5 separate regions of the Homo sapiens genome follow, and regions 2, 3, 4 and 5 are each reported to be linked to region 1. The links are microRNA targets in miRTarBase. Many come from high-throughput screens and were not tested one by one. Region 1 holds a microRNA gene; each other region holds the end of a gene's coding sequence.

Evidence for each region. Region 1 holds the annotated microRNA hsa-miR-4766-5p (UCUGAAAGAGCAGUUGGUGUU, at 2,881-2,901, shown strand). A microRNA usually pairs through its seed, bases 2 to 8, with sites in the 3' UTR of a target mRNA and lowers its output. Matches are read on the target gene's strand: a 7mer-m8 pairs with bases 2 to 8, a 7mer-A1 pairs with bases 2 to 7 and ends in A, and an 8mer does both.
Region 2: miRTarBase lists TXLNG as a target of hsa-miR-4766-5p. Seed matches in the 3' UTR shown: 8mer at 2,476-2,483 and 8mer at 2,049-2,056.
Region 3: the mRNA of ZNF680 is a reported target of hsa-miR-4766-5p. Seed matches in the 3' UTR shown: 7mer-A1 at 4,112-4,118.
Region 4: the mRNA of ANKRD11 is a reported target of hsa-miR-4766-5p. Seed matches in the 3' UTR shown: 7mer-m8 at 3,736-3,742.
Region 5: the mRNA of SLC39A14 is a reported target of hsa-miR-4766-5p. Seed matches in the 3' UTR shown: 7mer-m8 at 1,595-1,601 and 7mer-m8 at 2,781-2,787.

The regions. Positions count from the first base shown.
Region 1 is chr22:40,811,696-40,816,827 of GRCh38, reverse strand. MIR4766 (microRNA 4766) reads left to right here and starts at 2,870; the gene lies at 2,870-2,945. All of the region lies in intron 1 of SLC25A17 (solute carrier family 25 member 17), which reads left to right.
Region 2 is chrX:16,841,342-16,846,341 of GRCh38, reverse strand. TXLNG (taxilin gamma) reads right to left here. Exons shown (of 10, transcript NM_018360.3): 10 at 1,823-4,914. The coding sequence ends at 4,576. It overlaps RBBP7 (RB binding protein 7, chromatin remodeling factor), which reads left to right. Exons shown (of 12, transcript NM_002893.4): 11 at 404-514; 12 at 1,239-2,001. The coding sequence ends at 1,307. Among named protein-coding and RNA genes, the nearest start is that of RBBP7, 27 kb to the left of the region's middle.
Region 3 is chr7:64,516,727-64,521,858 of GRCh38, forward strand. ZNF680 (zinc finger protein 680) reads right to left here. Exons shown (of 4, transcript NM_178558.5): 4 at 3,152-5,132. The coding sequence ends at 4,435. Among named protein-coding and RNA genes, the nearest start is that of ZNF680, 44 kb to the right of the region's middle.
Region 4 is chr16:89,263,928-89,269,059 of GRCh38, forward strand. ANKRD11 (ankyrin repeat domain containing 11) reads right to left here. Exons shown (of 13, transcript NM_013275.6): 13 at 3,703-4,736. The coding sequence ends at 4,551. Among named protein-coding and RNA genes, the nearest start is that of ZNF778, 49 kb to the left of the region's middle.
Region 5 is chr8:22,418,844-22,423,975 of GRCh38, forward strand. SLC39A14 (solute carrier family 39 member 14) reads left to right here. Exons shown (of 9, transcript NM_001128431.4): 9 at 709-3,893. The coding sequence ends at 855. Among named protein-coding and RNA genes, the nearest start is that of PPP3CC, 20 kb to the right of the region's middle.

The DNA of each region.
Region 1 (5,132 bases):
GCCAGCCTGGCTAACATGGTGAAACCCCGTCTCTACTAAAAATACAAAAAGTAGCCAGGCATGGTGGTGGGCGCCTGTAATCCCAGCTACTCGGGAGGCTGAAGCAGGAGAATCACTTGAACCTGGGAGGCAGAGGTTGCAGTGAGCCAAAATTGTGCCATTGCACTCCAGCCTGGGTGACAAGAGCAAGACTCCGTCTCAAGAAAAAAAAAAAAAAACAATAAAAAATAAATGAATAAATAAAAAATAAGTAGAATAATTTTAGATACAGTTAAGTGCTATAAAAGAACATAGAGATTGGCAAACTTTTTAAAGAGAGCAGATGGGAAATATTTTAGGCTTTGTGTACCGTTGTCACAGCTACCCAACATTGCCATGGTCGTGTGAAATCAGCTGTAGACAGTAAATGAATGGACAGAGCTGTGTTCCAATAAAATACTGTTTTCAAAAACAGATATTAGATTGGATTTGGCCCATAGGCCATAGTTTTCTGACTCCTGCTATAGAGAGAGTGACTGGCAATAGTGGTAATATATTTCTATTTAATCTACAAAGATACTTCTTTTTTTCACTTGTTGCCTATTTTTCTCTTTTTTTCTTTTTCTTTCTTTCTTTCTTTTTTTTTTTTTGAGATGGAGTTTCGCTCTTGTTGCCCAGGCTGGAGTGCATGGAGTGCAGTGATGCAATCTCGGCCCACCACAACCTCCGCCTCCTGGGTTCAAGCGATTCTCCTGCCTCAGCCTCTCGCCGAGTGGCTGGGTTTACAGGCATGTGCCACCACGCCTGGCTAATTTTGTATTTTCAGTAGAGACGGGGTTTCTCCATGTTGGTCAGCCTGGTCTTGAGCTCCCGCCCTCAGGTGATCCGCCTGCCTTGGCCTCCCAAAGTGCTGGGATTACAGGCGTGAGCCACTGCGCCTGGCCTGGAATTACTTTTCTAACTTTGTTTATGCCTGAATCAAAAACGATTAATGAAATTATATCGTCATACATAGTATTGTATAACTTAATTTTTTAAGAAGCAAATATGGCATAATAGCTGAAAAAAAAGGTTCTGTAGTAAAGCTTAACTATGAATGCCATCATCAATCGAACTATAAAACAGGGACAATAACAATGCCTCACTTAACTGGGTTCTTGTGGGAAGTAAATGTGATTATATTTGTGGAGCATCTAGCATAATGGAACGTTGTAGTAAGACCATAATTATTCATTTCTGTCTCAAGTATATTCTTGCAAATACAGCACTTATACCTAGTTTTAGAAATTTAAGGGAATTGAAATGTTCTCTTGCCTCATGGCCATCTCCACCCATTCCCTTCACTTGTTGCAGATGATCTTACCTTTTACTCTCTAGATAAAATAGAACCTACTTGGGATGAGTTTTTTCAGTTTTTTCCAATTACAGTTGTACTCGTGTTTTCTACATTCTGCTGGTCTCAGAGGAAAAATAGACATATTCAGTGTCTGCTACCTTCAATCTTTGTCCTCCCCTCCAGCCCATGGCCAGTTTTCTTCCAGGACTTTGCTCCAGTAATTTTCATCTCTTTCCTATAGCTTTAACCTAGTATCTGCTTCTGTTCAGCCCTCAAACATGGTCAGGTCTGTCCCATCAGAAAACTATACCAATCTGATCTGGAATCTGGTAGCTTCTTCAGCCTCTGCCTGTTCTCTTTCCCTTTGTGCTAAGCTTATTTAAAGAATATTCTGGGCCGGGTGTGGTGGCTCACACCTGTAATCCCAGCACTTTGGGAGGCTGAGGCGGGCAGATCACGAGGTCAGGAGATCGAGACCATCCTGACTAACACGGTGAAACCCCATCTCTACTAAAAATACAAAATATTAGCCGGGCATGGAGGCAGGCGCCTGTAGTCCCAGCTACTCGGGAGGCTGAGGCAGGAGAACGGCATGAACCCGGGAGGTGGAGCTTGCAGTGAGCCAAGATTGCGCCACTGCACTCCAGCCTGGACGACAGAGCAAGACTCCGTCTCAAAAACAAAAAAAACCAAAACAAAACAAAACAACAACAACAACAACAATATATATATATATATATATATATATATATATATATTCTGCACGTACTGCCTTTCCTCATCCTACTTTGACCACTGGAACTGTTCTTCCAAAGGTCAACTCTGACTTCCTAACAGCTTAATCTACTATTGTGAATGGTTTAAGGTCATGGATAACCAGGTACACACACATTTGTGTCTTTTCACAATGTCAGACTTTTATTGTGTTATTTCAGTTATAAAAGACAAGTTACATGGAGTTCTCAAGGAGGCAATTTTTATTAGTACTTCTCATTCACTAGGTAGTCAGTCAATATTGTAAATCATATATAATAGTATACCTAATTAATACATAAATGATGTAGATTAAACATTCTGCAACAAAGTAACATTGAACATCAAGAGAAAAGGGTGAGGAAAAAGGGTTACCTAACCAGTCCGGGGAGAGTGATATAGACAAGTATCCTGGTTTCATCATGGCAGTGTGTTGGTCTTGTAAGAAAGAATCCTTGATGTGGGCAGAGCCTTTGGACACAGATATCAGGCTTTTATAACAAGTGACAGCAAGACAGTGTCTGTTAAGACCATTTTGAGTTTTTTAAGTCCTGTTCTTTTTATGGTCACAGAGTCTTCTGGTAAGGACTGATAGTGGAAGAGCATGCTTGGTTGTGTCTTTATCTGGAAAAACATCTGGTCCCTGTTGTCAAAGTGCTTTTTGAAATGAAAGATAGGAGTCTTTTTCTAAGATGGAGTTACTTATGTCAAGAGTGCTCTATACATCTACTGACTGTTTTTGCATTCTTAATTGATTCCAGTTCTTTGTAAGTATTCTATACTGTTGACCCTTCTACCTTTCTGAAGCTCCTTCTGAAAGAGCAGTTGGTGTTTATTTTTTACTAAATAGCAATTGCTCTTTTGGAAGGAACTTGAGAAGACATTACTCCTTTTAGGGCCCTAAAATTAACAGTGGTTTCTACTACTAACAGATACTATAGCTATAAAGGACATGTAGAAACCAACAATTGTTGAGTGCCACCTGTGTGCCTGGTATGATGCTAGGTGCCAACCATAATTTTTTGTTTTTGTTTTTGAAACTCAGTCTCGCTCTGTCGCCCAGGCTGGAGTGCAGTGGCGTGATCTCGGCTCACTGCAAGCTCCGCCTCCTGGGTTCACGCCATTCTCCTGCCTCAGCCTTCCGAGTAGCTGGGACTACAGGTGTCTGCCACCACACCCGGCTAATCTTTTTGTATTTTTAATAGAGAGGGTATTTTTTTTTTATACAGAGTCTCGCTCTGTCACCCAGGCTGGAGTGCGGTGGCACGATCTCGGCTTACTGCAACCTCTGCCTCCCAGGTTCAAGTGATTCTCCTGCCACATCCTCCAGAGTACCTGGGACTACAGGTGTGTGCCACCACTCCTGGCTCATTTTTGTATTTTTAGTAGAGATGAGGTCTCACCGTGTTGGCCAGGCTGGTCTCGAACTCCTGACCTCAAGTGATCCACCCACCTCAGCCTCCCAAAGTGCTGGGATTGCAGGTGTGAGCCACCATGCCCAGCTACTTTCCATAATTTGATTCTAACTTCTCATAGCAACCTTGACAAATACCGGTCTCAAAATTACAAATGAGGAAATTGAGACATAGAGATTTGAAGTTACTTATGTAATATATACTATACTTGGGACGTAAACCTATATTTTATCCCTAAACACTCGAGAGTGTCATCCATGAGGCCATTTGTGTAACTTGCCTATCTGTCTGTGTATGTATGAGTTAGCTTGATTGTTATGTCAGGGAAAAGACTTACATTAACTCTGATGAGGTGAATAACATTTTTAAATATGAAAGCCATTGTAAGTGGCTTTTAATCTTTAGAATTTTATTAGCTCAAACCACAGAAAACATCTTAGGTGGTTTTTAAAAATTTTTTTAAATTTTTATTTGTTTTGAGACTAAGTCTCACTGTGTTTCCCAGGCTGGAGTGCTGTGGGATGATCACAGCTCACTGCAGCCTCAATCTCCTGAGCTCAAGCCATTCTCCCACCTCCTAAAGTGCTGGGATTGCAGGTGTGAGCCACCGTGTCTGGCTTTAAAATAATCTTTCTGTTCTATAATGCAGTGTTCTAAATCAGGAGAGGCTATACATTGATTTCAGTGGTGCTGCTGTGACTCAGCCACGTCGGGACCCCTCTGGAAACTGATTTTGGACTAGCATTGTCTTTTTTACCCCCACCACTAGTTTTCACCCTGCTAGGATGAATCAACATTTTAGAAACAGTCAGTCACATTTGGTGATTTGGTTGGTATACCAACCCAAACATCATTGTTTTATGCTTAAAAGGCATGAAAATATGCTTCTGTATTTATGTATGTTCTTATCTATTATTCCCATAAGATTGCACACGCTGGGGGGACCAAGTCTTGACCAGATTTACCCAGTGTTTCATTCTTACTCTATCTGTAAGCCCAACTTCATATGTGGATTGTGTTGACCAAATTAAAAAGTATACTTTAGATATTTACAGGAGAGATATAGCCCAGAATGAATAAACCATCTTTTTTTTTTAGTAAGTAGCCTGAAATGTAGATGATGATGCATTCTTAAGAAATCCAGGTGCCAGGCTGGGCGTGGTGGCTCACGCCTGTAATCATAGCACTTTGAGAGGCTGAGGCAGGCAAAACACTTGAGGCCAGGAGTTTGAGACCAGCCTGGGCAATGTAGTGAGACCTCATCTCTAAAAATAAATAAGTTAAAAAGAAAGAGAGAGAGAGAGAGAGAGAAAGAAAAAGAGAAAAAGAAAGAAATCCAGGTGTCAGTTCAGAATTGTTCACAAAAAAGAGGAACCCCCAAATCCCCAAGAACTTAGGCTAAAAATCGTTTATGTGACTGATACAGTTTGGATGTTTGACCCCTCCAAATCTCAGTTTGGATGTTTGACCCCTCCAAATCTCATGTTGAAATGTGACCCCCAGTGTTGGAGGTGAGGCCTAGTGGGAGGTGTTTGGGTCATGGGGGCAGATCCCTCATAAATGGCTTGGTGCCATCCCCTTGGTGATGAGTGAGTTCTCACTGTTAGTTCATGGGAGAGCTGGTTATTTAAAAGAGCCTGGTACCCACG
Region 2 (5,000 bases), not on the chromosome of region 1:
AACTGTATATGAGCAAATGATGCTGGATTAATGTTCATCATAATCAGTATGGAAATGGCATTTTGACTAGGAAAATGTCCTCATTCTTAAGGGATGCAGGCTGAAGTCTTCAGCCATTTCATTGTATAGGCTCATGGATAAAGCATCAGTTATGCTAGTATCACTTGGTGAATCTAGGTAAAGGGTATACAGGTATCCATTGTACTATATTCTGTCACCTATTCTGGAGGTTTGGAAATTTGCAAAATAAGTATAAATAGATTACTGAGCCTGTACCACCTTCTAAAACCAGACAGCACCCACCCCCAGTTGAAATACTGATAGCTCTAAAAACTTAGTAAAACCTTTGTTAGGATTAACAGGAGAGTATATGAAATCAAAGCTTTTTTTGTTCTTGTAACAGTTTATTCATGGAGGACACACTGCTAAGATTTCAGATTTTAGCTGGAACCCCAATGAGCCTTGGGTCATTTGCTCAGTGTCTGAGGATAACATCATGCAGATATGGCAAATGGTGAGTTAAAATGTTTTTCTTGAATGACTGTCTTGTAAAGGAGAGATTTACTACTTACATAATGTAATAAAGTTATTTCGAATATGTAGGTGCATATTATGCCAAACATTTACAGAAACCGTTTAAAAGAACTTTTTCCATTTCAACAATACAATCTTTAGTCCCATATGGTGCTTCGTCCACTGTTTGCTATTTGTAGCACCTGTCAGGTCAGGAGAAATCTCTGCATCTGCACTGATTTTCATTGTTGTTGTGCTCTTCATACACTGGAGTCTTGGCGTCGCTACTCTGTCTCCAGTGTCTGTTCTGTGTGGTAGGCATGAGGGATACAGGAAGGAGAGGTCAAGGCATTCAAATGACAGCAAGTTCTCTGAGGATGAGCACTAAGTAGCTGACATTTCTAAGTTGTTGTTAACCGAGACTTCCATAACATCTGGGCTACCACTTCCTCTAAACGATGCTTGAAGTGCCTTTGGAAAACATCTCTTATGAACAGTGATTGAAATAAGTAGTGCATCGATGGGTGGCTAAGTATACATACGGAATTACACACTGGCAAAGAATTTTTCAAAATACTGGCTAGCCTACCATTTCCTTATTGAAGTTTTTAAGAGAGAAATGTAAAAATGAAACTATTAAGTTCTAAATAGATTAAATTGTTTTTACATGACCATGTGAAAACCATAGGGAGTTTTTACCTGTGAATTTATTTGGTTATCTCCAGGCTGAAAATATTTACAATGATGAAGAGTCAGATGTCACGACATCCGAACTGGAGGGACAAGGATCTTAAACCCAAAGTACGAGAAATGTTTCTGTTGAATGTAATGCTACATGAATGCTTGATTTATCAAGCGCCAAAAAGGCATTGTATAGTAGGAAATGTAAGTGGGGTGGCTTATGGCTTCTTTATCCTCTGATTCTAGCACTTTCAAGTGAGCTGTTGCGTACTGTATCATATTGTAGCTATTAGGGAAGAGAAGAATGTTGCTTAAGAAAGAACATCACCATTGATTTTAAATACAAGTAGCAGGGTATTGCCTTTGATTCAACTGTTTTAAGTCCTCATTTTCTCAAACTAAGTGCTTGCTGTTCCCAAATATGCAAGAATAACTTTTACACTTTTTCCTTCCAACACTTCTTGATTGGCTTTGCAGAAATAAAGTTTTAAAATAAAACTTGTGTTTTTTTAAAAGCTTAGTGGGGGGGGGCGGGGGAGTCTACTTTTTGAGTAGAAATGGGTAAAATGGTACCTTTGGACTCCTACAGTTAAGGTCACATGGATAATGAAAGAATACACAGAAGCTGTTAAGTTTATCATACATATTTACTTAATCTATACAGAATCAAGTAGATAAAATCAGATTCACATTAGTGAAAAATCTCTACAAAATGTCTTTGAAAAGCAAAACGAGACTGCCTCTTAACAATTCGTATCCTCATGAAAGACGTGGGCTGTAAAAATAAAGCAGTGTGTTTAGCACAAACTAGAAGATATCTGCATCATTTTTTTCACAGTTATTTCCATCTACAGTCTGAAAGAGGTAGATTTTTCTGCAACACCTGAGAATTGAATTGTGATAACCAGGTGTAATAAAGGCAGTTGCATACATAACTGAAAAATACTGGTCTCAAGACCAAGAAATGTACTCCTAACAAGTCTGAGGATGAAATGGTCCATATTACCCAAGACCCAAGTTTTCTCTACACCTTGGAGTCCACCGCCAATATAAATAATACACATCACGATTCCATGATGGTGCAACAATTGCAATTTAAGTGAATTCAACATTTAAACCTTTTCTGGGCCAGCCTAGTAGCATTACAGTGTTCTAGAATATGGTAGATACGGGGTGCGCTACAAAGCCACAACACTGGGCTGGTGAGGTGATCACTGTAGGAAGATGTCCTTCTCAGGGGGTCCCATTTGTTTTTATTCACAGGGTAATGGGAGGAAGGGTTCTGAAAGGACAACAAATGCATCCCAGACAGAATCCATATCCTTTCAACACTATAATAGCATCTAGCTAAAAATACAAAGTAAGCCAAAAGCAGCAGGCCAAGTACTGTTAATCACATTGCTTTAAAGCCCTTGGAAGTATGCAACAGGCCCAAGATTTACAATCTTCCACACAGGACAAGCACCACAAAGAAACGTGGTGGGCTACACAAATGGCTTAATAAAATGTTAAGAGCTGTACATCCAGCAGAGTTCTTGTGAAATAATGTGATCATTAGTACTAATTTTAAGGTGGATTATATTTCTGATCTATACCTGCATTCCCCCCCACCACCAGGGAAATGAGTCTAGTATTTTAGTAGCAGAACAGGGTGTACTCCTAAGAGGCTGTTGGAGGGTGGTGTTTTTTGCTTCTGACTCATTTTGATGGTAATTAGATAATCTACTTTGTGGATTTATTTTCCTCCACTGTGGCCCCTTGAATTAACATGACTGATAGTGGAGGCTTAGATACAACCCTCCTCCACTCCAGGCGGTTTCCTATCTATCTATCTGTTGGACAATTTTCAATTCTTTCAACCCAGTTTCGACCATGAATGTGACAGGACTTTACAAATAACACTTGTAACAAAGAGAAAACCCTTTTAACTGGACAAAACAGAGTTTATTCAGTCCAGTAAGCAATTTAACAAGTGTCAGTCTGATAGTTTTGCTCAGTGGAATGTGCTAACATCAGTTCTAGTAGAACCTTTTATTTCATAAAGCATTTCAATGCAAATTATACCAGGGACAAAGTCAAAACTTCCATCAGTGCAGCCTGATTAATCATCTGCATAACTGCGCCACATTCAACATTGAAACAAAGAACTAATTCAAAAGTTATGTGCTTAATTTCAAATTTTCCCCCAGTCCAAGTGTAGAGACCTTGATAATACTGTGGCTTTTCTTTTTTCTTCTTAAAAAAGAGATGGTAACTAAGAAGGGGGTGAGAAAACAGACTGAACACGTAAGTAACAGATCATGACTAACACTCTGCCAAGTCTTCCCAAAGTAAAAATGTTGGTGCCAGTGTTTGTTTTGGAAATGAAAATCAATTTCGGTTGGTACTGATCCATAATGAAAATTCCCTTTTGAAAAACCTGGAGTACTTTGCTGGTGGAATTTTTGTAGTAACTTTCAAGTAGCCAGAAGGTATTGGAGAAACTTCTGCCTAGTGAAAGTGACACGTGAATTGACCGTCCTTGTCTTTGACAAGGGACTTCATTGAACGGCAAACATGAACACCAGTTTTCAAAGAATAAGTGGCCTTCTATGGGAAGTGGAGAATATGTACTGAAATCCCAAATCAGAATCAAACACAAACCGCCATCCTCTACGGGAGCCCCTCATGGTCCAAATCCCACACCTGAAACCAAAGCAGGATGACTGTTCAGTCACGTAAACACTAAGCTTATTTGTCTAGTGATTTGCCTCTATGTACTATTTTGTCCACAAGTGACATCTTTATATACATATTCTGCCGAAACTTAGGATTCTAGGCATGTGGCCATCTCAATTTGTCCCGAGATATAAATGTTTTCAAAAAGCTAATTTCAATCAAATATGCTTCTGACCCAACACTAGGAGTTTTATTTTTACTTGGCATTTAAATGGGTTATTAGACAAAACTAATCGCCTTGGTATTTTGTTTTTCTGAATAATATTATGGGGGGGGGGGCTAAGACGTTTAAATTAATATTGTTTTCACATCAAGGAACCATCGTCAGAACAAAGTTCCCTTGTAATGGTCGGCCCTGTCAGTGAAATTTTCATTAGGATGATAATGTGCAAGGAGCAGGGAGAGAAAGGACAAGGCAATGAACACATGCATTCCAGTGGAGGGAGAACGAGGCTGATGTGCAACACAGCTGAGGAAAATTTATAGATTAAACTATTCAAAACTGCTAAGCAGCCTCCTGTACCACATAAGTCCAGTAGTTCTAAGAAAATACAGATATGGTAGAAAAAGTAAGAAAATTTTCACCACAAAACCAATAGTTAACTACTAACAGAGAAAGTTATACACAAAATATATCTCTCAATACAGTGATCACACCTCATCTTAGTCAACCGACTCGATGGCCGGAGCAGAGCCTGTGGACGGGGGCTTTTGCACAGCGCTTCTCTGACTCTTGGGCTCAGCCTCCAGGTGCGCTCCCAGGGCTCTTTTCGAGGAAGTGTTCAGCTCCTTGTGAGAATCCAGGGCAGTACAGGGCTGCATCACAGGTGTTGCTAAATCCCTGTTCGCCGCTTTGATGGCCGCTTTGATGGATACCTGCTCTTTCAGGACTTCCACCTTCTCATTGAGCTCATTCCTTTCTGTCTGAAGAGCCCTGCACAGCTTCTCTAACCGTTCCAGTTTTATTTGAAGGGCCTTGTACTCTTTATCACGGACTGTTTTCTGTAAGAAAAAAGAGGATTTCTGTAACCCTGTTAAATATCAATCAGGTTACAAAAAAATTAAGCCAGCTCAGCCATATTGGACAC
Region 3 (5,132 bases), not on the chromosome of region 1:
AAGTCTCAATAAATTTAAGAAAATTGAAATGATATCAAGTACTTTCTCTGACCACAGTGGAATAAAATTGAAAGTTAACAACAAAAACCTTTAAAACCATTCAAATACATGGAAATTAAATAAACTGCTTCTGAATGATCATTGGGTCAGCAATAAAATCAAGACAAAAAATATTTAAAAATTTTAATGGAATGATATAGTGACAAAACCTATCAAAACCTCTGAGATACAGCAAAGGCCGTGCTAAGAGGAAAGTCCATAGCTTTAAATGTCTACATCAAAAAGTCTGAAAGAGCACAATATACTAAGGTCACACCTCAAGGAACTAGAGAAACAAGAACAAACCAAACCCAAACCCAGCAGAAGAAAGGAAACAACCTAGCTCAGTGCAGAACTAAATAAGATTAAAAAGAAAAAAAGACAAATGAAACATAAACCTGGTTTTTTAAAGGATAAATAACATTGATGGACCATTAGCAAGATTAAGAAAAAAAGAGAGAATATTCAATTAAGCTTAATTAGAAACAAAACAGGAAATATTACAACTGACATCACAGAAATACAAAAGATCATTCAAGGCTACTATGAACACCTTTACACACATAAACACAAAAATCTAGAGGAGATAAATTAATTCCTGCAAATGTACAACCCTCCTAGCTTAAATCGGGAAAAATCAGAAACCCTGAACAGACCAATAACAAGCAGTGAGATTAAAATCGTAATTTAAAAAATTAACAACAAAAGAAGTCCAAGACCAGACAGACTCACAGCAGAATTCTACCCAACATTAAAAGGAAAATTGGTACCAATCCTATTGACACTATTCCACACGACACGGTAAGAGGGAACCTCCATAATTCATTGTATGAAGCCAGCATCACCCTAATACCAAAACCAGAAAAGGACATAGCCAAAAAAGAAGACTACAGACTGACCTAATGAACACAGAGGCTAAAATCCTTTAAAAAAAAAAATCTAACTGAATCCAACAACATATCAAAAAGGTAATCCACTATGATCAAGTGGGTTTTGTATCAGGGATGCAGGGATGATTTAACATATACAAGTCAATAAATGTGATACACCAATAAACAGAATTATGAACAATGATCATCTCAATAAACACAGAAAAAGCATTTGACACAATCCGGCATTCCTTTATAATTAAAACCCTCAGCAAAATCTGCATACAAAGGACATATCTCAATGTAATAAAAGCCATCTATGTCAAACACACAGCCTACATAACACTGAACAGGGTAAAGTTGAAAGCATTCTCTCTGAAAACAGGAACAACACCAGGATGTGTACTTTCACCATTTTTATTTAACATAGCACTGAAGTCCTAGCCAGAGCACTCAAATAGGAGAAAGAAATAAAGGGCATCCAAAGAGGAATTTAAGCTGTCACTATTTGTTGATGATATGATTGTATACCTAAAGAACCATAAAGACTCCTCCAAAAATCTCCCAGAACTGACAAGTGAATTCAGCAAAATTTCTAGATACAAAATTTATGTACACAAATCAGTCACTCTGCTATACACCAACAGTGACTGGGTTGAGAATTAAATCAAGAATGCAACTTTTTTTTACAATAGCTGGAAAAAAAATACTTAAAAATATACCTAAACAATGACATGAAAGACCTCTACAAGGAAAACCACAAAACACTGCTAAAAGAAATCACGGACGACACAAACGAATGGAAACACATCCCATACTCATGGATTGGTAGAATCACTATTGTGAAAATGACTACATTGCCAAAAGCAATCTAGAAATACAATGTAGCTCCCATCAAAATAGCAACATCATTCTTCACAGAATGAGAAAAGACAATCCTAAAGTTTACATAACTTTATACTATAAAGCCATAGTCACAAAAACAGCATGGTACTGATATAAAAATAGGCATATAGACCAATGGAACAGAATAGAGAACCCAGAAATAAAACCAAATACTTACAGCCAACAGATTTTTGACAAAGCAAACAAAAACATGAAGTGGGGAAAGGAAACCCTATTGAACAAATAATGGAGGGATGTTTAGCAAGCCACATGTAGAAGAATAAAACTGGAAACTCATCTCACAACTTATACAAAAATAAACTCAAGATAGACATAAGACATAAATCTAAGACCTAAAACAGTAAAAATTCTAGAAGATAACATTGGAAAAACGTTTCTAGACATTTGCTTAGGCAAAGACTTCATGAATAAGAACCCAAAAGTAAATGCAACGAAAACAAATATAAACAGATGGGGCTTAATTAAACTACAAAGCTTCTGCAGAGCAAAAATAATCAGCAGAGTTAACAGACAACCCACAGAGTGAGATAAAATATTCACAATCTATACATCTGTCAAAGGACTAAGATCCAGAATCTACAAAAAACTCATATAAACCAGCAAGAAATAAAAACAATCTCATTTAAAAGTAGGCTAAGGATATGAATAGACAATTCTCAAAAGAAGATATACGAATGGCCAAGAAACATATGGAAACTTGCTCAACATCTCTAATTATCAGAGTAATGCAAATGAAAATCACAATATGATACCACCTCACTCCTGCAAGAATGGCCATAATTAAAAAATAAAAAAATATAGTGTTGGTGGGGATGTGGTGCAAAGGGAACAATTTTACACTTCTGGTGTGAATGTAAATTAGCACCATTATGAAAAATAGTGTGGAGATTTTTTTAAAGAACTAAAAGTTGATCTATCATTTGATCTAGCAATCCCACTACTGGGTATCTATCCAGAGGAAAAAAAGGCATTATATGAAAAAAGATACTTGCACACACGTTTATAGTCTATGTGCCTATTTGTATACCAGCACCATGCTGTTTCGATGACTAAAGCTTTATAGTATAGTTTAAAGTCAGGTAATGTGATGCCTCCAGATTTGTTCTTTTCTCTTACTCTTGCTTTTGCTATGTGGAATCTAAAAGAAAATTTTATTATTTTTGATCACATCAGTTAATCTGGAGGACAGCATATTAGTTGAAATAAGCCAGGCACAGAAAGATTAACATCTCATGACCAAATAACATATTGTTACTCTCTTTTACCTCCCTCCTTGAGTAAAGTGAAAAAGGTTAAAGTTAATGGCATAATAACGCTTCATTGAATGCACAATAGTCTTAACATGTTAAAGAAATGTTTAATTATAAAATTAAGCTTATACATAATCTAAAAATTTTCAAATGTACTGCATTTATAGCATAAAAGTACAATTAGTAAAATGATTCACTAGTAATTTAATTACATTTAATTTAAAGTAAAATTAAAAATGCTTTTCTCTATGATGCAGAATATTACTCCAAACACCTACCTCATGCATCACTCAATATGAAAAGTAAACTAACAGGGCCTCTCCACTTAGATTTTCATCATAAACCTTACATTTTAATGCCCATACTCTTCCACAGAAAAAACCATAAATAATGCCCATCTAATAAAAAAGAATCTCTCCTATATCTGACACAGCAACAATTTATCACATGCTTTCACATGTGAATACAATAGGAATGAAATAAAGTAATTTGAGAGTTGAATTTCATCATTATTTACTTTTCAAATAAGCCATAATTTTTTCAAGAAAAAAAGTATACTTTCAATGTAATTATAACTCTCCAAAGAATCTTCTACTCCTTTTAAAGTTATTTACAAATAATCTAACAACTTATAGATTTTTTTATACTCAACACTCTGTTTTAGTGTAATGTCTAAAGTGTCAGTGCCTTAGTTATTTCTACTGTAAATTATTTAATATTTACATAGACTCAATTTTGGATTAAATATTTTTCATACTTACTGCATCTGCAAAAACACATTTCAATATAAATTCATGTTTTCTACGCCGTAGTTTTTGAAAAAAAATGTTTTTCCAAATTCATTACATTTGCAGGATTTTTCTCCAATATAAATTCCCTGATGTTGAACAAAGTTTGAGCAACTGCTTCAGTGTTTTTCTCTAGTACAAAATGCGTACAATAAGATTTGTAATACAAGTAAAGGTACTACAACCCTCCTATGCTCCTTATATTTGTTATGTTTGTCTTCAAAATAAACACGCTTCTTCACTTTAAAGTGTTATGTTTTCTGAAATTTCTTTTGACAGTAATTGCATTTATAATGCTTTTAATAAGTATAAACTCTGGTGTTGAGTAAGATGTGAAAAGATATCAATGACTTTTTCACATTCTTTATACTTGTACAATCTTTCTCAAGTAAAAATGCTTTCCTGTGCAATAAGATGTGAGTATTGGTTAAGTTTTGTCACATTCTTTACACTTATAAAGTTTTCTCCAATATAAATTATCTTACCTACAAGCAAGTGTAACAATCATTGGAAGGCTTTGTCAAATTCTTCACATTTTTAGGGTTTCTCAACAGGATGGTGTCTTTTATGTTTAGAAAAGTTTTAGGTGTTATCAAAATTATTGTCACATTTTTCAGGTTTGTAGAGTTTCTCACCAGTATGAATTTTCTTATGTCTAGTAAGGTGTGAGGACCGGTTAAAAGCTTTGCCACATTCTTCACATTTGTAGGGTTTCTCTCTAGCATGAATTCTCTTATGATTAGCAAGAGTTGCAGGCCAGTTAAAAACATTGCCACATTCATCACATTTGTAGGATTTCTCTCCAGTATGAATTACTTTATGGTTAGTAAGGGTTGAAAATAAAGTAAAGCCTTTGCCACATTCTTCACATTTGTAGGTATTCTCTCTAGTGTGAATTCTCTTATGTCGAGTAAGGCTGGAGCACCCATTAAAAGCTTTGCCACATTCTTCACATTTGTAGGGTTTCTCTCCAGTATGAATTCTCATATGTTCAGTAAGGTTTGAGGACTGTATAAAAGCTTTGCCGCATTCTTCACATTTGTAGGATTTCTCTCCAGTATGAATTTTCTTATGTCTAGTAAGGTTTGCAAACTGGTTAAAAGCTTTGCCACATTCTTCACATTTGTAGGGTTTCTCTCCAGTATGAATTTTCTTATGTTTAGTAAGGTTTGAAAACTGGTTAAAGTCTTTGCCACATTCTTCACATTTGAAGGGTTTCTCTCCAGTATGAATTCTCTTATGGTTAGTAAGGGTTGCAAACCAGTTAAAGGCTTTGTGAC
Region 4 (5,132 bases), not on the chromosome of region 1:
GCTCACTGCAACCTCCCTCCCCGCCTCCCGGGTTCAAGCGATTCTCCTGCCTCAGCCTCCTGAGTAGCTGGCATTACAGACTTGTGCCACCACACCCAGCTAATTTTATATTTTTAGTACAGACAGGGTTTCTCCATGTTGGCCAGGCTGGTCTTGAACTCCTGACCTCGTGATCCACCTGCCTCAGCCTCCCAAAGTGCTGGGATTACAGGCGTGAGCCACCACACCCGGCTGGTATCTTTTTTTTTTTTTTTTTTTTGAAGACAGAGTCTTGCTCTGTCCCCCAGGCTGGAGCAACCATCACAGCTCACCGCAGCCTCAGCCTCCTGGGCTCAGGCGATCCTCCCGCCTCAGCCTCCCGAGTACCTGGGACCGCAGACGCGCTCCACCATGCCTGTTCTTTGTTGTTGTTGTTGAGACAGGGTCTCATTATGTTGTCCAGGCTGGACATGAACTCCTGGGCTCAAGCATCCTCCTGCCTTGGCTTCCTGTTGTGATTATAGGTGTGAAATACTACACCCAGCCTGATTTTTGGTTTTAGAGACAGGATCTTGCTGAGCTGCCCAGGTGGGAAGGCAATGGCTGTTCGCAGGCTCACTCACGGTGCACTACCGCCGTGAGCTCCTGGACTCAAGTGATCCTCCTGCTGCAGCCTCCCAAGCAGCTGGGACCACAGGTGTGAGCCATGTTTCCAGTTTATCACAGGTAATTTCAGATGTGAGTGACGTTCTGTGCCCAGTAATGGGGCTTTTGGGGTTTATACCACTGCACTCCCCCAGCTGTGGTGTACAACTTGCACCTCGTCCCTGAGCTCTTGCTGATGCCACAGCTGAGCTCTTGCTGATGCCACGGCTGCCTTCTCACTGCCTGTGGGTCCCTCTCTCTAGCTTCAGTATTTCATTCTGCTTTCCAACAGAGCCAAGCTGGGCCCAGTTCCTTCTACTCTCCTGTGAGACTGTCTTCGCTGTCCCCCAGCGGGAAGGAGGAAAGCAGCTCCCTGGTGTGGGGGGAGGTGGGTGGAGGTTGTGTGCGGCTCCACGTGCTGGGGCCCTTCCCCTCCTGCCAGGCTCAGGCCCAGGCCCAGCTGCCGCTTGGAAATGGCGACCCCTGAATGGAGACCTGTCTTGCCAGATGCTGCACGGTCTCCTGGGCAGAGCAGGCGCTCTCTGTGCGGGGAGCTGACGGCTCACGGGCTTTCCACAAAAACCTCTCACCTCCTTCCAGGTTTTACAAAAGCCACCAGCTTCTCTTCTACAGCAGCAAAAGCCGCCATATTTCTTTCCTTTTTCTGTTGAAGCCTGGGGCCTTACGCCTTGGCAAGGTGTCAGCTTCCCTGAGAGGGGGACCCTGTGCCAGAAAGGGGTGCCAGCTTCCCTAAGAGGGGGACCCTCGGCTGGGGAGGGGCACCGGCTTCCCTGAGGGGGAACCCTGTGTCGGGGAGGGGCGCCAGCTTCCCTGAGAGGGGGACCCTGTGCCAGGGAGGGGTGCTGGCTTCCCTGAAGTGCCTAGGGTCCGAGCACTCACCTGCTCTGTGCTTTGGGTTTGTTTGTTTTTTGTTTTTTTTTTTGCTAATGGCAGTCCTCAGAGCCTCCGGAAGGGAAGGCATCAGGAAGGCTTGAGTTACAGGTGGTGGACCCTCAGAGCCAGCCTGCTCCAGAGCCCGGGCTCCCAGGCAGGAGCTGGGTAGCGCTGGGGTCCATGGATGTAGTTGAGCGAGTGGGGTTACGCCATCTTCCTCCAGCTCCAGCCAGAGACTCCCGAGAGCGGTCTGAAGCCCACATGGGTGGCCCCGGGCAGCAGGGTCTCCAGGCTGGCACGCAGGCTCCTGCGGTTCTGGGTACTCTGACGTTTCTCAGTGTTTATTCACAAGTCTCTCTGAGGGGCGGCAGGCTGTCTCTCGTCCCCTATGGCAGGAGGCTGTTTGGGAGTCGCATGTGCGGCATCTCTGGCAGGTGCACGGGAGCCGAGACTCCAGCAGACCAGGGTGGGGGCCGGAAGGGAGCTGCTCTCGCCTGACACCCCTCGTGGGCACCCGAGACAGGGAGGCACAGCATGGTGGCCGGGACGTCGTCACCACTGTGGGCTGGAACTGCAGCGTGCTCTGTGTGACACAGGCTGACTCAGGTTTTTCTTTTAAGGCAGGGCTTAAAGGAAGTTTTACTGTGACCAAAGTTCTGTGATTGAGGGGGTGTGGAGAAAACAAAAAGCCTGGCCAAGATGGTGAAACCCCGTCTCTACTAAAAATACAAAAACTAGCCGGGTGTGGTGGCAGGCGCCTGTAGTCCCAGCTACTCGGGAGGCTGAGGCAGGAGAATTGAACCCAGGAGGTGGAGGCTGCAGTGAGCTGAGATTGCGCCACTGTGCTCCATCCAGCCTGGGGGTCAGAGCAAGACTCCATCTCAAAAGCAAGCAAAAAACCCCCAAAAACCCACGAAGCCCCCAAAACAAACCACAGCTAATCCGAACCCAGAAAAATAGACTGGAACCTTCTGGCTTCTCCACACCCCCACCCCAAGCCCGTAAATGAGGTGGACAACCCTGCCTTTGCTCAGGCTCAGCCCTGAAGGGAACAGGAGGGAATCCACAAAAGTTCTGTTCACAGATCGAAGACAGGAGAGGGGGCATGGCCCCACGCCTACCCCCAACCCCACGCAGGGGCCCAGCTGGCGAGGGAGCTCACAGCAGCCTTTGGGGGAATGAAGCCACTGCCCCCGCCACTGGCTCAGCCTGGCAGGGCTCAGGGACCCTCCCAGGTCGGGCTCCTCCGCAGGGGACCCAGTGACCAGGACCCTGTTGATTCTGATGCACGGGCAGTGTCTGCTCTTCTGTGGGGGTTGTTTCTGTAGCTGCCACTCCCTCCCCAGCACCCAGGTACAGGGGACAGACAGCTCAGAAGGAAAAGGGTGAGGCGCCTCCATCAGCTCACCCTCCTGTCACGCCGGGGGCCAACAGTCTCCTGGAGCCACACTGGCTGGAGGGTCCTGGCAGGCATCCTCTGTGCCAAGATCCTCTGAGCAGAGGCCTCGCATCTCCATGCTTGCCTGAGCTGCCTTCCAGCCAGGACAGGGCTCTCAAAGCGCGGACCCTCACCAGCTGCAGCTGCCAGGGAACTGTGGGCAGGGGCACAAGCCAGCCAGCCACAAGCTGAAGCTCAGGGGCGTGCACAGCTGGCCACGGGGTCTGGCCACGGCTGCAGTGCTCAGATCCGTGGGGAGTGATGCTCCTGTTTCTCTCCAGCTCCTACAAGAGGCAGTAATTCCACAGCATTCCCGGTCTGTGCAAAGGCAGAGGACGAGGGGAACAGATAATTTGTTTCAAAATTAAAAGCTAACAACTTGGTAGGAAAAAGGTTTTCTTTTTTTTCAGACAGAGTCTGCTGTGGAGTAGGGTGGCGTGATCTCAGCTCACAGCAGCCTCCACCTCCTGGGTTCAAACGATTCTCCTGCCTCAGCCTCCGGAGTAGCTGGGACTACAGGCGCGCGCCACCACACCCAGCTAATTTTTGGTATTTTTAGTAGAGAGGGGATTTTGCCATGTTGGGCAGGCTGGTCTCAGACTCCCGCCTCGGCCTCCCACAGTGCTGGGATTACAGGCGTGAGCCACCACGTCTGTCCTGGGAGTAAGAAGGTCGTCGAGAGGGGCGACACTGTGTCAGTCCCACACACAGCCCCTCTCCTGGAGGGACGCACTGTACAAAGAGCATTTTAATTAATTTATTTATTTCTTTACACATAACTGAAAGTGATGTTACAGTACATAAGTTATTTACAACTGTGCAGTAATGTGTTGCAAAATAAATTATCTAGAAGGCAGCAAAAGTACATTGTGAAGGTATATAAAACTGTACAGCGTTTACGGATACACTTTTTATATGATTATTGGCTCTGTAGTGTTTCAAGTTACGTTCTCAGAAAGAGAAACAAAATGCCCAAGATTAAAGGAAAGAAGATACAAACCACGCGGATTTGACTCCATTTCAATACGGCTGGGAGTCCTGGCTCTGTGTCCCTCCGCCTGGCTCCGCACCAGGTCTGAAGCCCAGTCTGAGGCCGTCGCAGCTCGGCGGCAACAGAACCACGGCTGGGATGGGGCTCCTGCCCCTCCGACCTGCAGGTCACTGTTTGTGAGAGGTGGACACCTTAATTTTCTTTAGTTGATCAGAATGGAACAAAAAATTTTAAAAATGTACTCCGTTCTCCAACTCCTGAAATGCCTCTGCAGTTGCTGGAGAAAAGGGCCCGAAGGTCGCCGTTTTCAAACAGAAGCTGCCGTGTGTGCGCGCCCGGCATGGTCTCCTCATCCCGCCGGGGCCAGTGAGGCTCTGGGGGCTTTGCCCCCGCCGCGGCAGCTGGTAGAGAAGAGACGTGTTTCACCTCCCCGACGTCTGGACCAGTCTGGAAGGGATGGAGGCGCTGTGGCCAAGTGCAGTCTCTCTCGGGGTCTCTCCCCGCCCGGGTGGACAGGGCGCTCCCTCCTCCGCCCCTGGGGCTCAGCAGCAGTCCTGGGCAGCCGTGCGGCCCTCGCCTGCGTCCTGCGGCCGTCCCGCGGTGTCATGCCGGCAACAATACAAAGTCGTCGTTGACGTCGACCATGGGCACGTAGAAGGAGGGCACCTCGTTCACGCACAGGGACTTGTGCCCGGCGGGGTCCAGTTCCTGCACCTTCAGCTGCCACTCCATCCTCTGCACGGCGTTCAGGGCCGCGGCCTCGTGCTGCTGCCGCATGAGGAGGCAAGTCTGCGGGACACACAGCGGGGAGAGGAGGGAGGAGGAGTGAAGGGAGAGCCCCAGACTCTGCCGACCTCAGCTGCCAGCAGGGCCAAGGGCGTGATACGGCCGTGAACCTACCCTGGTATGGGCCAGGCCCAGCTGTACCCGCTCCTGGCATCTAGTTACTACACGTGGCGGTAGCGCCAGCTGTGCTACATGTCTGTCCCCATAACCGCTGTCTATGCCACCTCTACCCTGGCCTGGGGCTCACCCTGGCCCGGGGGCCCTGCCCTGCTCTGGGTGGGCCTGGGACTCACCTCCAGCAGCCACTGCAGCTTATTAGAATCGAACAGCTTTGCTTTTGTCATTTTACAATTACTTACGGCCAGTGATAGTTTCACTTGTATTTCTAGTAGAAACTAT
Region 5 (5,132 bases), not on the chromosome of region 1:
GATAACAAAAAGACCTCTTAAAGTGTTTAAAGTCCATAATAAGGCCAGGCATGGTGGCAGGCACCTGTGGAGCTACTCAGGAGGCTGAAGTGGGACAATTGCTCGAGCCCAGGAGTTTGAGGCTGCAGTGAGCTATGTTCGCACCACTGCACTCGAGCCTGGGCAAGAGCGAGTGGAAAAAAGGAAAAAAAAAAGTCTATAATATAAAGTTTATTTTTTATCAGAGTACATTTATTTTTAGCCAGCCTCTAAACTCATCCAGAGCCACATACACGTTGAGTACTTTGTTTTACCTAGACAGTTGTAAAGACATGGTACCTGCTATTGTTAATTTTCTTTTTTTGTTTTGTTTTGTTTTGGAGATGGAGTCTCGCTCTGTTGCCCAGGCGGGAGTGCAGTGGTGTGATCTCCATTCACTGCAGCCTTGCCTTCCGGGTTCAAGCAATTCTCCTGCCTCAGCCTCCCAAGTAGCTGGGACTACAGGCCTGCGCCACCACGCCCAGCTAATTTTTATGTTTTTAGTAGAGACAGGGTTTCACCATGTTGGTCAGGCTGGTCTCGAACTCCTGACCTCTAGTGAGCCGCTGCACCTGGCCCTGATAATTTTCTTTGTCAACCAACCTGATCTATATCTCCATCACTGAATTGCCCTGGACTTACAAGATGAAGAAGGAATTGCAGCTGTGTTGTTTCTTGCTTCTTTCCCAGTTCCCTGAGATGAATGAGGTCTGTCAAGAGGATGAAAGGAAGGGCAGCATCTTGATTCCATTTATCATCCAGAACCTGGGCCTCCTGACTGGATTCACCATCATGGTGGTCCTCACCATGTATTCAGGACAGATCCAGATTGGGTAGGGCTCTGCCAAGAGCCTGTGGGACTGGAAGTCGGGCCCTGGGCTGCCCGATCGCCAGCCCGAGGACTTACCATCCACAATGCACCACGGAAGAGGCCGTTCTATGAAAAACTGACACAGACTGTATTCCTGCATTCAAATGTCAGCCGTTTGTAAAATGCTGTATCCTAGGAATAAGCTGCCCTGGTAACCAGTCTCTAGCTAGTGCCTCTTGCCCTCTCCTCACCTCCTTTTCTCTCAGTGACTCTGGAACCTGAATGCAGCTTACAAGACAAGCCTGACTTTTTTCTCTGATTACCTTGGCCTCCTCTTGGAACCAGTGCTGAAAGGTTTTGAATCCTTTACCCAACAATGCAAAAATAGAGCCAATGGTTATAACTTGGCTAGAAATATCAAGAGTTGAATCCATAGTGTGGGGCCCATGACTCTAGCTGGGCACCTTGGACCTCCAGCTGGCCAATAGAAGAGACAGGAGACAGGAAGCCTTCCCATTTTTTCAAAGTCTGTTTAATTGCCTATTACTTCTCTCAAAGAGAACCTGAAGTCAGAACACATGAGCAGGGTGAGAGGTGAGGCAAGGTTCATCCTGAATGGGAGAGGAAGTCGAACCACTGCTGTGTGTCTTGTCAGGATGCTCACTTGTTCCTACTGAGATGCTGGATATTGATTTTGTAACAGCACCTGGTGTTTCACGGCTGTCCGAGTGAGCTAACGTGGCGGTGTGGCTGCCTGGACCTCCTCTTTCAGGTTAACGCTGACAGAATGGAGGCTCAGGCTGTCTGCAAGAAAACAGTTGGTTTGGCTGTGATTTTGACCTCCTCTTCCCCACTGCCATCTTCTAAGAGACTTTGTAGCTGCCTCCTAGAAGCACATTCTGAGCACATTTGAGACCTCTGTGTTAGAGGGGAGACTGCACAAACTATCCTCCCCCAGGTTGAGACGTCTGCAGAGTGGCAAGCTGACTTGTAGAAATGGGGTGCCATTTATGCTCTACTTAGACAAGGGTAATCAGAAATGGAATCAGTGCAGGCAAAATTTAGGATTTGCCGCTTCCATAAATCAAAGCATGACTAATAGGGGGTCTCTGAAATGTAAGGGCACAAACTTCACTTAGGGCATCGCAGATGTTTGCAGAATGGTTGGCCTAATGATTATGCTACAGATGGGTTTTAAATGACCCGTCTAGGTTACTGCTTCCTTGCAAAAAAAGTCGAATCCTGCATTGAATTGAATATGAATTTCTCTAACTCTCTCCAGAAAATGGATGGAGATAACTTGTCTTTAAAACTGTAGGCCAGCCTTAGCCACTGTGGAGCCCTTGCCTCCGAGCTCTGGCTTCAAGGGGAGCTCTTCTCCAGGTTCACTAGGTGAATTGATTTATTATTATCATATTGATAATGTGAGATTCTTTAGCCACTTTGGGGAGCCTGTCTCTCCAGAAGCCTTTCTTAGTGGTGCCCACAGTTGGAGCCCAGGGGCCATGTTTGCAAACTGATTCATGTGCATGGCTGACAGGAGTACTGGTTCACTACCAATGCCTGAGCTTTTCTCTTACATAGAAAAACTGTCCGCTCTCAGTAATCACAAGCAGCATCCGTTTTGTTTTCTCTTCTTGGGAGACATCTGTCAAACCAGGAATATTCTTGAAAAGAACGTGAGCAGGAAAAACTGCTGGTGATACTTTTTTTAAGTTTTGTTTTTATCTTGCCTGTTGGCTTCAATACATTTGAGAATACGCTGAAGAGGGAAAATTTCAGTGATGGAGATTCTAGATTAAATATCAGGACTGATTTCCTGGTGGGATTATGGTCCAGTTTTACCAAAGAACCAATTCCTTGAATGTTGGAATCTAACTTTTTATATTGTCATTATTATTGTTGTTTTTAAACGGTTCTTTGTCTTTTCTGTTTTATTTTTCTCAAGCTGCTTTCAGGAGCTAGCAGAAAATAACTCAAAGTTGAAGACTCTGGAAGATTTTGCTTTAACCTAACTCGCATTGATGTATTAAATTTATAATTTTAGCATTCCCAATAGATCCTATCATTCCTTAAACATAATACCCTTTGTCTTGGAGTAGAATACTAAGTTAGAGTTAGTGGATTTCTAGTTTAGGAGAGGAGCTCAAAACTATAATCTTTAACAAATTGAAAAATGAAATAGGGTGTTTTCCCTTTTTGTGCACACCTATATTACCTTAAGAAATTTCCTTCCATAGACAGCTGCCTCAAAGGGAAATCCTCTTTAAACCGTAGTTGGCGCAGAGGTCAGTCCTAGTCGGAGCTTAGGAGGGGCGGAGACGCTCACATCGTCTGACTTGAGTCGCCACTGATTGTGGCAACAGCTTTGCCTCATGAGTCAAAAATTGGCAATTTCTTTTGATTTTTAGTTGTTGAATTTGCTGTTTCAAGCATTTGTACATATTAGAAGTCTAAGGAGTAGCAAGTCAGTGGGAGGACTTTTTCACCCCTGGCATTAGCAGCTTCGACCTCATTTTCCAGATGCACCAGCTCCTATTAATAAGTTAGCAAGGAAAGTGTATGTCACGTGCAGGAACAGTGAGGCAGGGACAGGGGTTCTGCTCCTTCTCACTTCACCACCGGCACACAGCTTGCCCCTGTCTTTGCCCCCAAAGGTATTTTGTGTCTAGTGTCAAATTGGAGCTATTCTTCACTGGTCCTTAACCTTGGGTTTTAAAAAGAAGGCTTCTCTGTTTGGGTAGCGTAAGAGCTGAGTATAGTAAGTCCTCTTCCAAAGAGATGGCAATATGCTGGGCATCTACTTTAAAACAAAGTTGTCTGATTTTTGCAAGAGAGGTTAGGATTTTATTGTTCTTATTTCCCTTTACAGTTCTGCAGTTCCATCACAGTATTTTTTTAAATAACTCAGGTGTATGAGAAGAAATTAGAAAAGAAAATTAACTTATGTGGACTGTAAATGTTTTATTTGTAAGATTCTATAAATAAAGCTATATTCTGTAATTGTTGAGAATCCCACGGGTGATCATTTGCAATAAATGTGGATGTAATGAAGGCTGTTGAACACAAGGTGGCGATGGTGTCTCACTGACGTACAAAGTTTTGTTTTACCAGGTCTGGTTTAACATTTGACTGGGATTTTAGAAGGTTTTTTTTGTTGTTGTTATTGAGACAGAGTTTTGCTCTTGTCGCCCAGGCTGGAGTGCAGTGGTGCGATCTCGGCTCACTGCAACCTCCACCTCCTGGGTTCAAGCGATTCTCCTGCCTCAGCCTCCCGAGTAGCTGGGATTACAGGTGCCCGCCACCACGCCTGGCTAAATTTTGTATTTTTAGTAGAGATGGGGTTTCGCCATGTTGTCCAGGCTGGTCTCGAACTCCTGACCTCAGGTGATCTGCCCGCCTTGGCCTCCCAAAGTCTTGGGATTACAGGCTTGAGTCATTGTGCCAGGCCAAGAAGGAAACTTTTGTACTCTCTTCTCTTTTCTTTCTTTGAGACAGTCTCACTCTGTCACCCAGGCTGGAATGCATTGGCACGATCTCGGTTCACTGCAGCCTCCGCTTCCTGGGTTCAAGCGATTCTCATGCCTCAGCTTCCTAAGTAGCTTGGACTACAGGCATGTAGTACCATGCCCAGCTAATTTTTGAATTTTGTTGTTGTTGTTGTTTTGTTTTTTTTTTTTTGAGACGGAATCTCACTCTATTGCCCAGGCTGGAGTGCAATGGCACGATCTCGGCTCACTGCAAACTCCGCTTCCCGGGTTCACGCCATTCTCCTGCTTCAGCCTCCCGAGTAGCTGGGACTACAGGTGCCCGCCACCACGCCCAGCTAATTTTTTGTATTTTTAGTAGAGACAGGGTTTCACCGTGTTAGCCAGGATGGTCTCGATCTCCTGACCTCGTGATCCCCCTGCCTCGGCCTCCCAAAGTGCTGGGATTACAGGCGTGAGCCACTGGCCATGATTTTTGAATTTTTAATAGAGATGGGGTTGCGCCATGTTGGCCAGGCTGGTCTCAGAACTCCTGACCTCAGGTGATTAGCCTGCCTCGGCCTCCCAAAATGCTGGGATTACAGGCATGAGCCACCGCGCCTGGCCTATACTCACTTTAATTGGTTTCTCTCTCTCTCTCTCTCTCTCTCTCATCTATCTTCCTATGTAGATAGATAACTGTTATCTACAGATAAAGTTTTATATCTATCTAGAGAGAGAGAGTGAGCTTGAACTCCCAGGCTCAAGCAATCTTCCTGCCTTAACCTTTTGAGTAGCTGGGACTAGAGGCGAGCACTACCATGCCTGATTAATTT